2 separate regions of the Homo sapiens genome follow, and region 1 is reported to be linked to region 2. The links are microRNA targets in miRTarBase. Many come from high-throughput screens and were not tested one by one. Region 2 holds a microRNA gene; the other region holds the end of a gene's coding sequence.
Evidence for each region. The annotated mature microRNA hsa-miR-4787-5p reads GCGGGGGUGGCGGCGGCAUCCC and lies in region 2 at 1,540-1,561, shown strand. An mRNA with a match to its seed (bases 2 to 7 or 8) in the 3' UTR can be bound and repressed. Matches are read on the target gene's strand: a 7mer-m8 pairs with bases 2 to 8, a 7mer-A1 pairs with bases 2 to 7 and ends in A, and an 8mer does both.

Region 1 (5,332 bases), not on the chromosome of region 2:
GGTGCAGTGGCTCACGCCTGTCATCCCAGTACTTTGGGAGGCTGAGACCGGTGGATCACATCAGGAGTTTGAGACCAGCCTGGCCAACACGTGAAACCCCATCTCTACTGAAAATTAACTGGGCGTGCTGGTGGCGGCACCTGTAATCCCAGCTACTCGGGAGGCTGAGGCAGAAGAATCGCTAGAACCTGGGAGGCGGAGGTTGCAATGAGCCAAGATCGCGCTACTGGACAGGCTGAGGTTCAGTTTCTACCATGTTCTCTACCAGCTCTGTGCCCATAAGACCAGGCACTTGGGAGTTGTGGGGAAGGTATGAGCTCCCAGGCCGGAGGCAAGGATGCTTCAAAGACAAGAAACGGCCAAGCGTGGTGACTCACACCTGTAATCCCAGCACTTTGGGAGGCCAAGGTGAGAGGACTGCTTGAGTCCAGGAGTTCAAGACCAGCCATGGGCAACATGGCAAAAATGTGTCTTTGCAAAAAATACGAAAATTAGCTGGGCATGGTGGTGCATGCCCATAGTCCCAGCTACTGAGGAGTCTGAGATGTGAGGATCACCTGAGCCTAGGGAGGTTGAGGCTGCAGTGAGCTGAGATCAAGCCACTGCATTCCAGCCTGGGCAACAGAGTGAGACCCTGCCTCAAATAAATAGCACCTAGGAAAACAGGGTCATGTTTTATGCACATTAAAATTCAGCAAAATGATCCCAGGTCTCACCTTAAGAATAAAACTTGAAACTATCAACACTTGAAAACATTTTTGCCAGGACGTCGTTCATTTTGGATCCAGGTTGGTGACTCTGTGCTTAGATTGCACATCTGTAATATCACATCCTGCAGCAAAGACACCATCGAGGCCCCCAGCCTGAAAATTGCTCCAGGAAAACCCACCACTCTAGCGTGAAGGCTGATGCAGCAAACACAAGCAAATTCCACTGAGAATTTTTTTTTTTTTTTGAGAAAGTCACGGTCTCTTACCCAGGCTATAGTGCAGTGGCGCAATCTTGGCTCACTGCAACCTCTGCCTCCCGGGTTCATGCGATTCTCCTGCCTCAGCCTCCCAAGTAGCTGGGGTACAGGCACCCACCACCACATCCGGCCAATTTTTGTATTTTTAGTAGAGATGGGGTTTCACCATGTTGGCCAGGCTGGTATCGAACTCCTGACCTCAGGTGATCCACCCACCTCAGCCTCTCAAAGTGCTGGGATTACAAATGTGAGCCACCAAACCCAGCCCCCACTGAGATTCTCATTCCTCTCTCCCAGCCCATGGGGTAAGTTTGCCACAAAGCTCCAGAGGAGAGGGGCCGTGGGGACTCCATCCCCACAGTAAGTGAGGCCCCAGCAGCAGATGCACCCCGCCCTTTGCTTCTCTCATTAACTAAGGGTCATCCTCCATCTCCCTCCAACCTGCCTGGGAAGCTAGGACGAAACAATACAGAGAAGCCAGGGCAGAAGGGACAAAAGAAAAGTCCAGTTGACACATCATCCATTTATTATCCTTCAGAGTCTAAAACTTCCTCGTGATACAACGTATAGCCACCCATTCCAGCCTGCTTATTGGAACTTCTATTCCCATCTGGTGGCAAACATTTCTTTTTACATTTGTTTTACTATCAAAGATTTAGAGTCACAATAAATACAAGTGACAGCCTCCACACCCAAAGAGCCTCCCCAATACCCTGCACTAGTGTAACCGTCTATTACACTTTAAGGATTATAAAATTGTTTGCTGTCCTTTTTTAAAAGCTCAGTCCAAGTTCTTTAGGTTAACGTCATGTGCAGCATAGCTCAGCATCAAAAACCCTACGGCAGAGCAGCAAGGATCATCCCTTCTGTGATGAGAATATTTGTATAGAGAAGTCTCTCCCCTGCCTCTACGTCCAATAGGAGAGCAGGAGCCACGGGGCCCAGCGGGGCTGCCACTGGGTTGCCTCATTCCCTCTGCCCTGAAGCTTTTGCTTCACCGAGGTCCGTGGAGTACAGGTAAGACCAGGCACAACTAGCACTGTGGGCTGTTCCACTCTGAGAAGGGCCGCTACAGACCTCGTCAGAGGGGTGGTTCCTGGTCACCGTAGAGTTCCTGGGATGAGGTCAGGACGGCCATAGCTGTGGGAGGTTCCAAGGGCACTTGGCCATTCCAAACCCTACCCCCAACCTCCCCTACAACAGGCGAGGTGTGAACTCTGAGATCTCCCCAGCCCTGTCTACAGAGCAGCTGACAGAGGGAACCGTTTCCAGGTGCTGTTGGAGGTTCATGTCACAGGTAACAGGGGACAGTTACAATCAGTTGGGCTGGGGGCTCCCACATTCTGACGGCTTGCAGGAACCTGATCCTGGTAGGGCTCTCGGGACCAGGACCCAGGCAGTGCCTGGTTTAAGAGGGTGTGCTTTGCTGTGGGTAGAACACCCTTAACATTAATCAATAGCTATCCTGGTGCGTCCAAACCCCACACCCAGAGAGGTACTTAATAATGCCTTCACCTGGAACATCATAAACGTCATAATACAACAACCCGCTTGGGGCTTATCGTAGAGGTTATGCTGCAAGGAACTGAAAGGAAATAATGGGCTAGAGTGTTCGAGACAGCAGAAATGAAGGAAAGATTAAGGCATCTCACACTTTTGCCCCCTGGGGGGAAAAAAAAAAAGTTTACATCACAGTATGTACGTTGTCCCTGATGGAATGCTCCCTGGGGACATGGGGCCGACCCTCTCCCTTTCGAGGGGCAGCAGTCCATATGAACTCACAAGGATGGGTTGACAGCCATCAGCCCTGGAGGAACAGCCAGGCCAGGCTGGGAGAGGTCAGGAGCTGGAGCTGGGGCTGGGGGCCGGCAGGTGCGGCTCGGATCTGGCCCCCTGGTCAGACCCAGCTGACCCAAGCTGGAGCAGGCAGAGGTGACTTCGGTCTGGATGCCTGATCCCCAGCCACTGCATAGAACTGAGGTTGGTTCGCTGGGGAGGGCTTTCAGTGGGAAGAAGCCAGCCTGGGTGCTCCTTCTGGGAGGAGCTGGAAGATCTGGCCCCTGTCATGGAACAGAGAGGGCTAACAGCTCAGGGTCGTAGGAGACAGGTATTTATTTGCCAGGCACACAGAAAAATGCGAGGAATAGAAATGCTTGCATACTCTTGATTTTTTTTTTTTTTTTTGGTGTAAAAAACACACCCTCCCCTCCCACCCCAAAAAACATCAAATTCCTTCCTTTTCCCCAAATCCCTGGATCTTGGAATGAAAGCCACCCTTCCCCAATCTGTCCTCACCTCCTTCAGCCCATCCAAGTTATGCACAAAAAAACAAAAATTAGTGAGAAATTTGGGGATTTGCACAACAAAAAATTAGATAATGTTTTCCAAAACTAGGTCTTCTATGCTGTGTCAAAAAAAGTTTCCTACAGACTGAGGATATTCACACGACAGGAGCCTGGGGGTTAAATGAGCCTTTATTAGAATGTTGTAGCAGTTGTGTTTGAAGGCGGTGGCCCTACAAAAAAAAAATTAAATTAAAGTCCCTAACTGCATGGGTAGGAAAACCAGGGCTGGAGCTCAATTGGAACCAGTGGAGCCCAGAACTCATGGAGACATACGTATGTACGTGGGCACGGGACGCCCTCGCACTGGCATGAAGCCGGCCCAGCCTGCAAGAGACACGGAACGGCTTCTGCCTTTCCTCACGGAACCAGTTTTTAAAGAGTGGGACGGGAAAGAAACAAAAATGAAACTAAAAGCAGACCTGATCCTTTTAAAAACATTTTTGTAGACTCTAAAGGGAATTACAAAAAAAAAAAAAGTCTGAAAGCAAATCCTGACAGCAACCCCTAGGTTTAAGGACAGGTTCTAAACTAGACCCAAACGGAAATCCTGACATCTGTGCGCAGCGGCTCGCCGCACACCTGGACGGCACCTCCTGACCTGCACACACCTGTGCACGCTCACCTCCCAGGAGCAAGGCCAGGGTGGCTTAAGATTGCGTCCATCGAAATGAATAGAAAAAAGGAAAAAATTTAATAAAATAAACCACAACAGAAAAACCCCGCGACAGTCCCCCCTCCAGCTTTCTGCTCAGGGCTGCTGCCGACCGGATCCTCTCCTTCTCCCTTAATGGGCAGCTTCTGGAATCCCTGCTTCTCTGGCTGGGTCTGTTCTTCAGTTTGTTCTTCTGCTAAGTCTGGAAGGTGCGGGGGCGGGGGTCTCCAGAACAAGCAGCAATGGAGGCGTTCAGCTGGAGCGAGGGCTGCCTCGGCCATCCCTGCATCTGTCAGTCAGTCACGGGGGCGGGCCGGCCGTCCCTGCCAGGGGCTGTGGCACCATGAGCCGCCCACCCTCCAGGGCACAGGGCCAGCGGGATGATGCAGCGTACAACAGGGACCCCAGGGTCTGCACGGTTTACTTTTAACTCCATCATCATGAGGTGATTAAAAAAAAAAAAAATCTTTCAACTTATAGATCGCCATGGGAAGGCAGTCAAAGACTGGGAGCCTAAGACAGGGAAAAGCAAAAAAATGAAACACCCCGCTCGGTTCAGAAGCCCCGGGCGCTGGCCTTGCCCATGCGCATCACAGTGTCCAGGGTGAGCCGCCCGTGTGCCGGCAGGGGCTGAACAAGGGGGCCAGGAGCAGAACCAGCCCCCAAGGTCCACTTTTCTGCTGGTGTCGGGCAAACTAAAGGCAAAGAGAGAAAGGAAGAAAGCCCACGGGAAAGGTCCCCCAGCGATGATCCTCGTCTGCCTATGAGGCGGCACCAGCCCCCTAGCCCTGATGAAACTTTGCAGCCAAGAATTGAGGTCTTGCCTCTGCAGCATGGCCGGTGCTTGCTCTTGGGGCGGGCACGGTGTCTTCCCGAGCCAGCGGAGGGTGGTGCAGTGGGTCCTTCTAGACCAGGGGCCAGGTGGGGGAGGAGGGAGCCCGTCTTCCACGGGGCCTGGCTCGCACTATTTCCACGTGGCTGACTGGGGGATGGAGCGGGGTGGGATCATGTCCAGGAGGTACTCTCGCTGGCGGTCCACGGCCGAGGAGCTCTTGTGCACCGCCAGGCTTGGGCTGACAAACGCAAGGGTCCCGCCTGCAACAGAACAGAGCGACCAGCTGAGAAGGCCCTCGTCAGGAGGGCTCCTGGGAGGAGCCCAGCCATAGCTGCCTAGACCCCAGCCCCAATACAGACTAAGGACCCAGGAGCCCTTGCAAACCCACCCACACTACTCCTCAATCAACGTTTCAAATCCCAGGCCCCCCCAGAGCTGAAGAGTATTTAGGCAGCAACTCAATGGCCTTGACATTGCCAGGCTCTGCCAAGGTAATCCCAAGTGTGGGGCAATCATCAGAGGGTGAGCAGCTA
Region 2 (5,370 bases):
AAGTGTACCTGGCTATTGAGAAATTCTATCATTCACAGAACAGACATTTTTCTGGGCGGGAGTGGGCAGCTATGATTAGTGAGAGGAGGAGCCTAAAGGTCCGAAGGTGGGAAGGGGTGGCCATAACCCAGGGGAGCACAGTCAGGCCTGGGAGGAGTTACCAATCATGACACTTTGAACGAAGAATCAACAAGATCTGTTGATTGCAAGATATTCTTCTATTAGTCTGGCTTCCCATGCAACAACTATACAACAGGTGCTGGGTTGGTGGTGAGGGTTTAGAAAGTTGATTTTAGCCTGGAGCTTGCCTTCTGGGAGCTGACAGTCTTATAAGGGAAATAAGACAAACCGAACATAGCTCCAATTCCAGACAAAGAAGGAAAGGAGACTATGGGTCAGGGCAGGCTTCCTGGAGGTGAGGGGCTGAGCTGGGCTTTGAAGAGTGGTGGTGTCTGAGAGTGCTAGTGAAGGATGACACCAGGGTTTTGACTTAGTAGTGCTAGTGACAGAGATGGGCAAATCTGCTGGGATTAGAGCATGTGGTCCAAATGTAGGTGGAAAGGAGAAGTCCTGCAGTTCCTGTTCTTTGGTAAGTGGTTGACTTGGGGGTCACAAGGTGACATTTACAGGCATCAGAATGAATGGATTCTTAGGGAGGAGAGAGAGGAGGAAAGTTTCCGGTAGGAGCCAGTTCTTAGGGCTCCAAGGGAGGCAGACACCCAGGAGCAGCAGATGCCGTGTCCTGGGTAGGAACACGAAGGGCCCAATGAAGCTCTTCCTTACTAGCAAGGCGGCTGTTGATTGTTCTGGCCCCAAACATTCACCACTCAGGCCATCTCAGAGAAGCAAGAACCCAGGAGGTGTCAGCGGCCTCAGCCCACAGGGGATCCAGGAGAGAGGGGCACGAGTGCACCCCACCTGGTTCCCTCGTGGCGACTCCATCCTGCGGGCCCTGGGAATGCACAGGGTGGCTCCGGGGACCTTTCCGACAGCACTGTGGGTGACACTGGGATGGGTCTGAAAATGGTGTCGTGTCCTCCTTTTCTGGATCTCCCCTCTCCGACCAGGAGGCCTGTGGCCATCTCGGGGCGCAGGCAGGAGGCACTGGAAGCGGAAGCGAGTGGGGAGTCCGGGTAGAGGGAGTCGCCCACCTGACCGGCTTCGCCCCCTCCGGGGTTTGCTGCAGCTGAGGGCCCCGGACCAGCGATTCTAGAAGCCGGTCCGGGGCCGGGCAGTCCAATAGCTTCTCGCGGATTTCCCTCCGCTGGCGCGCAGCAGCGGCGCGTGGATTCGCGCGCGGGCTCGGGACGGCGCGAGCCCGGGCAGCGCGAGCCCCTGCGCGGCAGGGAGTGGCGCATGCGCGGGCGTCCTGCGAGCCCGCTGGGGCGAGCCGAGCCGCGGCGGCGCCGGGAGCCGGGCGGCGGAGCTGTGAAGAAGCAAGCGGCGGCACGGGAGCAGCGGCGACGGACAGGTGGCGAGCCTTCGCCCGCGCCGCCAGGGGCTGCTGGGCCACCCGCGGAGCCTCGCGGTCCAGACGTGGCGGGGGTGGCGGCGGCATCCCGGACGGCCTGTGAGGGATGCGCCGCCCACTGCCCCGCGCCGCCTGACCGTCCCCGCCTCGACTCGCGGTGCGCCACAGCCGGGCCCGCGGCCGTCCCCGCCGCGTTGTCGCCCGGTCGCCGCGCCCGCGGGGCCGCGCCCGGCACGGCCATGTGGACCCCCACGGAGGAGGAGAAATACGGCGTAGGTAGGTGAGGCTCAGGCCTGGCCGTGGCGGGGGTTCTGGGGGACGCGCCCAGCTCCCGGCCCCGCCTGGATTCGCATCCTCGTGCCCCCGCCACTGCCCGCAGGCTGCGCGGCCTCGGCGCGGGGCGAGCGCGGGGTGGGGGCAGGTGCGGGTGCGGGTGCGGGTGCGGGGGTGGGCGCGGGTCTCTGTGCAGAGAGGGCGGCAGGGGGCGCTGGCGGTGCGGCCTTGGCAGGTGCGGCCCGCGGGAGGGGTGGGCAAGGCCCGGGCAGTTGCCCGAGGTTTCTGGTGTGGGCCACGGGGCAATTTTACCCGATAAACCAAATTCTGGGAATATGTTTTCTCCCCTCCAAAAGCTCGATTTTAATGAGTTTCCGCACCTGAATTGATGAGCCCGATGGCTGTTTATTTTTGATCTGGAACCTTACAAGAAAACGGATGAAAAACGTTGACATCATTTTCCCAGTTCAAAAATTTGGACATTTGACTGCAAATGTTTGATCTGTTTTAATTTGTTTTGCCTTTAGTATTAGAAATAATACCTTACGATGGGAAATGTTTTTGGACATGTATCAATGTTTATACGGTTTTTTTTTTAAACCCTGTTTTCAGATGAGACCTTATTCCTCTTAGAAACCTTTTTTTAATGTTGTAAGTGTTAAACTCCAGAAGCTAAATAATTCTTACAATATTCAACTTCTTTAAAAAGAATATTCAGTAATTTAAAGTATTGAATGTTTTACAATGTTAGTGTTTTGTGGCAATTACATGATAGAGTTAAGCCTCATTGCATCACCTATCATCTTGTTCAGTTAGAAACAGATTTAAAATGTTGAGTGTACAGGTTTTGTTTTTCCTAAGCTCGTAATGGAAAATTTTAGATAGGAAACCTGTCTAAACATAGATTTTTGTTTCCCATCTTTACCGCAATTTAATCAAGATTTAGTTCACAATTCACTACAAAATAACTTGAAACTGCAGTGGTAACGAATGTTTTGGAATGCTATCAGGCAGGTTATCGTGTGAAAATTGAATTTATTTAAATTCGAGGACCAGCAGAGAGGTCTTCTATTCTGGTAGAAGATCTTGTTTTAAAAGGTAACTTTCTGAAACAATTAGGTATGTTAGGATGGAGGTGATAAAGGGAGCTCTGGTCCTAGAGTCTCTATTGAGAAGGAATTGAGAAATGATGCGAAGAGCTGGGATTCACCTCTAGGGACATTTTACCCCTTCTCTTAGAGTATTCCCTGAATACTGAGTTGATTCTGTGAAGTGAGGAGTTGGTGGTTTATCTTCTCCATAACTCGCTCCCAGAACTGCTGAACTAGAATAACAAATAATTGATGTGAGTGGTCAACTCTCCAGTGGCACCCCATGATTGATTTTTTTGGAGGGGGGAGGAGCCCTATTTTGGCGGGGGTGGGGGCGTGGGGGGAGGAGCCCTTGAATAGTGGACAAAGTGGAATTCAGAGTCCTAGCTTCTCTTTACTGGTGGTGTGGGCAAGTAATTTAACATCATTTAACGTCATTTTATTAATGTATAAATTGGGGATAATGTTTACCTATCTTACAGGATTGTGAAAGTGAAATGAGAACGTGCTGAATGCTTAATAGTTTCTTCTTTTCCCTTAGTATTTAGACTAATAACACTAAGTGTGTTCTGAGACAGAGCCAGTGCAAGGTAATCAAGATAGGTACATGTGAATCTCAAAGCACTAGGATTTGGTGTGTGATTTTCCCAGCAAGATGCAACGAAATTCTTGCATTCCTAGGATTGTGTTTTTAGCTTTAGAAAAATTGTTATTCCCTTTGGAGGGCCACAGCATTGGGCTCAGGGCAGAGCTTAATGCTTGCTAAATGAGAGAGACAGTTACACTGAAGACATTTTCATAGCAGCTGTGGTTTAGCATAACTTAGATGCCTTTTCTACCAAACCAAGCAACTCTCTATTTATCTCACAGTCTTCCACTGTCCCTTCCTTAGTTATGATCTAAAAGTTTTTGTGTAAATTGTTTAAAACTCAGGACACATTTTTTTTCATAAGGATGTTAGGGCTACACTTCTAGAACTTTTCATAAAATCCACTTTATAAAGTAGCTTATACATTATACTTATGAGAAAAATAGTCAATTAAAACGGCATTTTTGCTGCATCATTTGATTGCTATGAGGGCTAGCTTGAAAATATAACCATTATCATTTTCCTGTGAGAAAATGTTTGAGTTTCAGCTTTGATTTTTATGACTAACTTGGAGCACAGATTTGTGTCTTTGTTTGTCAACCTATAATCACATAGCAAGGAGGGAAACCCCTTACACTTACTTCCTACCAATTTGGAGAAATTTGTGGAGGAGGGCCTCGAGGGCCTCCTTTTGCCCTGATGTTAGTGAGGGAAGGAGTCCCCTGTTGCAGCAGTACAAAGGGTTTTTTCCACTGCAGCTGTTCATTTGTATTTGACATTGATAAGGCTTTGAGATCCTGTAGTAATACTTATTAAATTTTTTATAATATAGGAATTCTGTACAGGTTATAACATGACTGAATTGTTTGGTTTATTCATTTAGGATGAGGTGATGACTGAGCCCCCCTTTCCATTGTAATATTCTGTGAGTGATTTTAGGCAGTGGGGAGGACATTATCCTTTCTGAGGGTCAGTGATAGGCCTGTCAGTGTGCCTGGGACTCTCACTTAGGTAACCCCATGTCGATTCCCAGAGTAGTCTTAATGTTATCATTATTACACAGATAAAGAAACTGGATCCCAAAGGTTGTTAATTTTTTTTTTTTTGTCCTTCAACGATTGTATATTTTTCTTAATTTTCTTCTTGGCAGTGGGCAGTATTTTGTGAAATACTTGACTGTCTTGCTTTCTTTTTGTGGTACTGTAAGGTACTGTTCTTTACTGTACCCGTTCGCCCGTGTTTTGACTTCTTATGTCCCTTTCCCTCTTAGAGAATCTCTGCTTTCCTTTCTGTTGCCATGAATGCTTGGAAAGTCCTGCATCCTTCCATTCTTTATTCTACCTTTCCAAGAAGCTTCCTGCTCTAAAGTGTATTAGGTGAGAAAAATCCAGCTATTTTTGTGAAACACCTGTCTTTCCCTATACTGACTGTACCCAGAGTACCAAATATAGAATACAAAAACCAAGAAAATGCTTTTCTCACCCTCTAACAGGAGCAACAGCAGGAGCAGCAAGCACCAACAGTTTTTAAAACAAAAATGTTTGTAATTACACTCCTTGAATAGAAAAGTGGTAAAGGTTTGAGTACATAGGTATTAGTTTGACGTCTTAGAAGTGGAAGCTGCTTCAGAAGGTCATCTTGTTTATTCTGCTGCTGTCATTAGGCAATTTTTTTTTTTTGAGAGGTGGGGTCCTGCTCTTGTCATCCAGGCTGGAGTGCAGCGGCATGATCATAGCTTACTGCAGCCTTGAACTCCTGGGCTCAAGCGATCCCCCTGCAGCAGTCTCCCAAGTAGCTGGGACTACAGGTGTTTACTACCTTGCCTGCCTAATTTTTTTTTTTCTTTTTTTGAGACGGAGTCTTGCTCTGTCGTCCAGGCTGGAGTGCAGTGGCGTGATCTCGGCTCACTGCAAGCTCTGCCTCCCAGGTTCATGCCATTCTCCTGC

Region 1: the mRNA of GATAD2A is a reported target of hsa-miR-4787-5p. Seed matches in the 3' UTR shown: 7mer-m8 at 4,183-4,189.

What each region holds. Positions count from the first base shown.
Region 1 is chr19:19,505,071-19,510,402 of GRCh38, reverse strand. It overlaps GATAD2A (GATA zinc finger domain containing 2A), which reads right to left. Exons shown (of 12, transcript NM_001384528.1): 12 at 1,471-5,059. The coding sequence ends at 4,929. Among named protein-coding and RNA genes, the nearest start is that of TSSK6, 7.8 kb to the left of the region's middle. RefSeq lists an enhancer at 4,910-5,332.
Region 2 is chr3:50,673,554-50,678,923 of GRCh38, forward strand. It overlaps MIR4787 (microRNA 4787), which reads left to right and starts at 1,527; the gene lies at 1,527-1,610. It overlaps DOCK3 (dedicator of cytokinesis 3), which reads left to right and starts at 1,374. Exons shown (of 53, transcript NM_004947.5): 1 at 1,374-1,747. The coding sequence starts at 1,711. RefSeq lists a silencer at 1,338-1,627.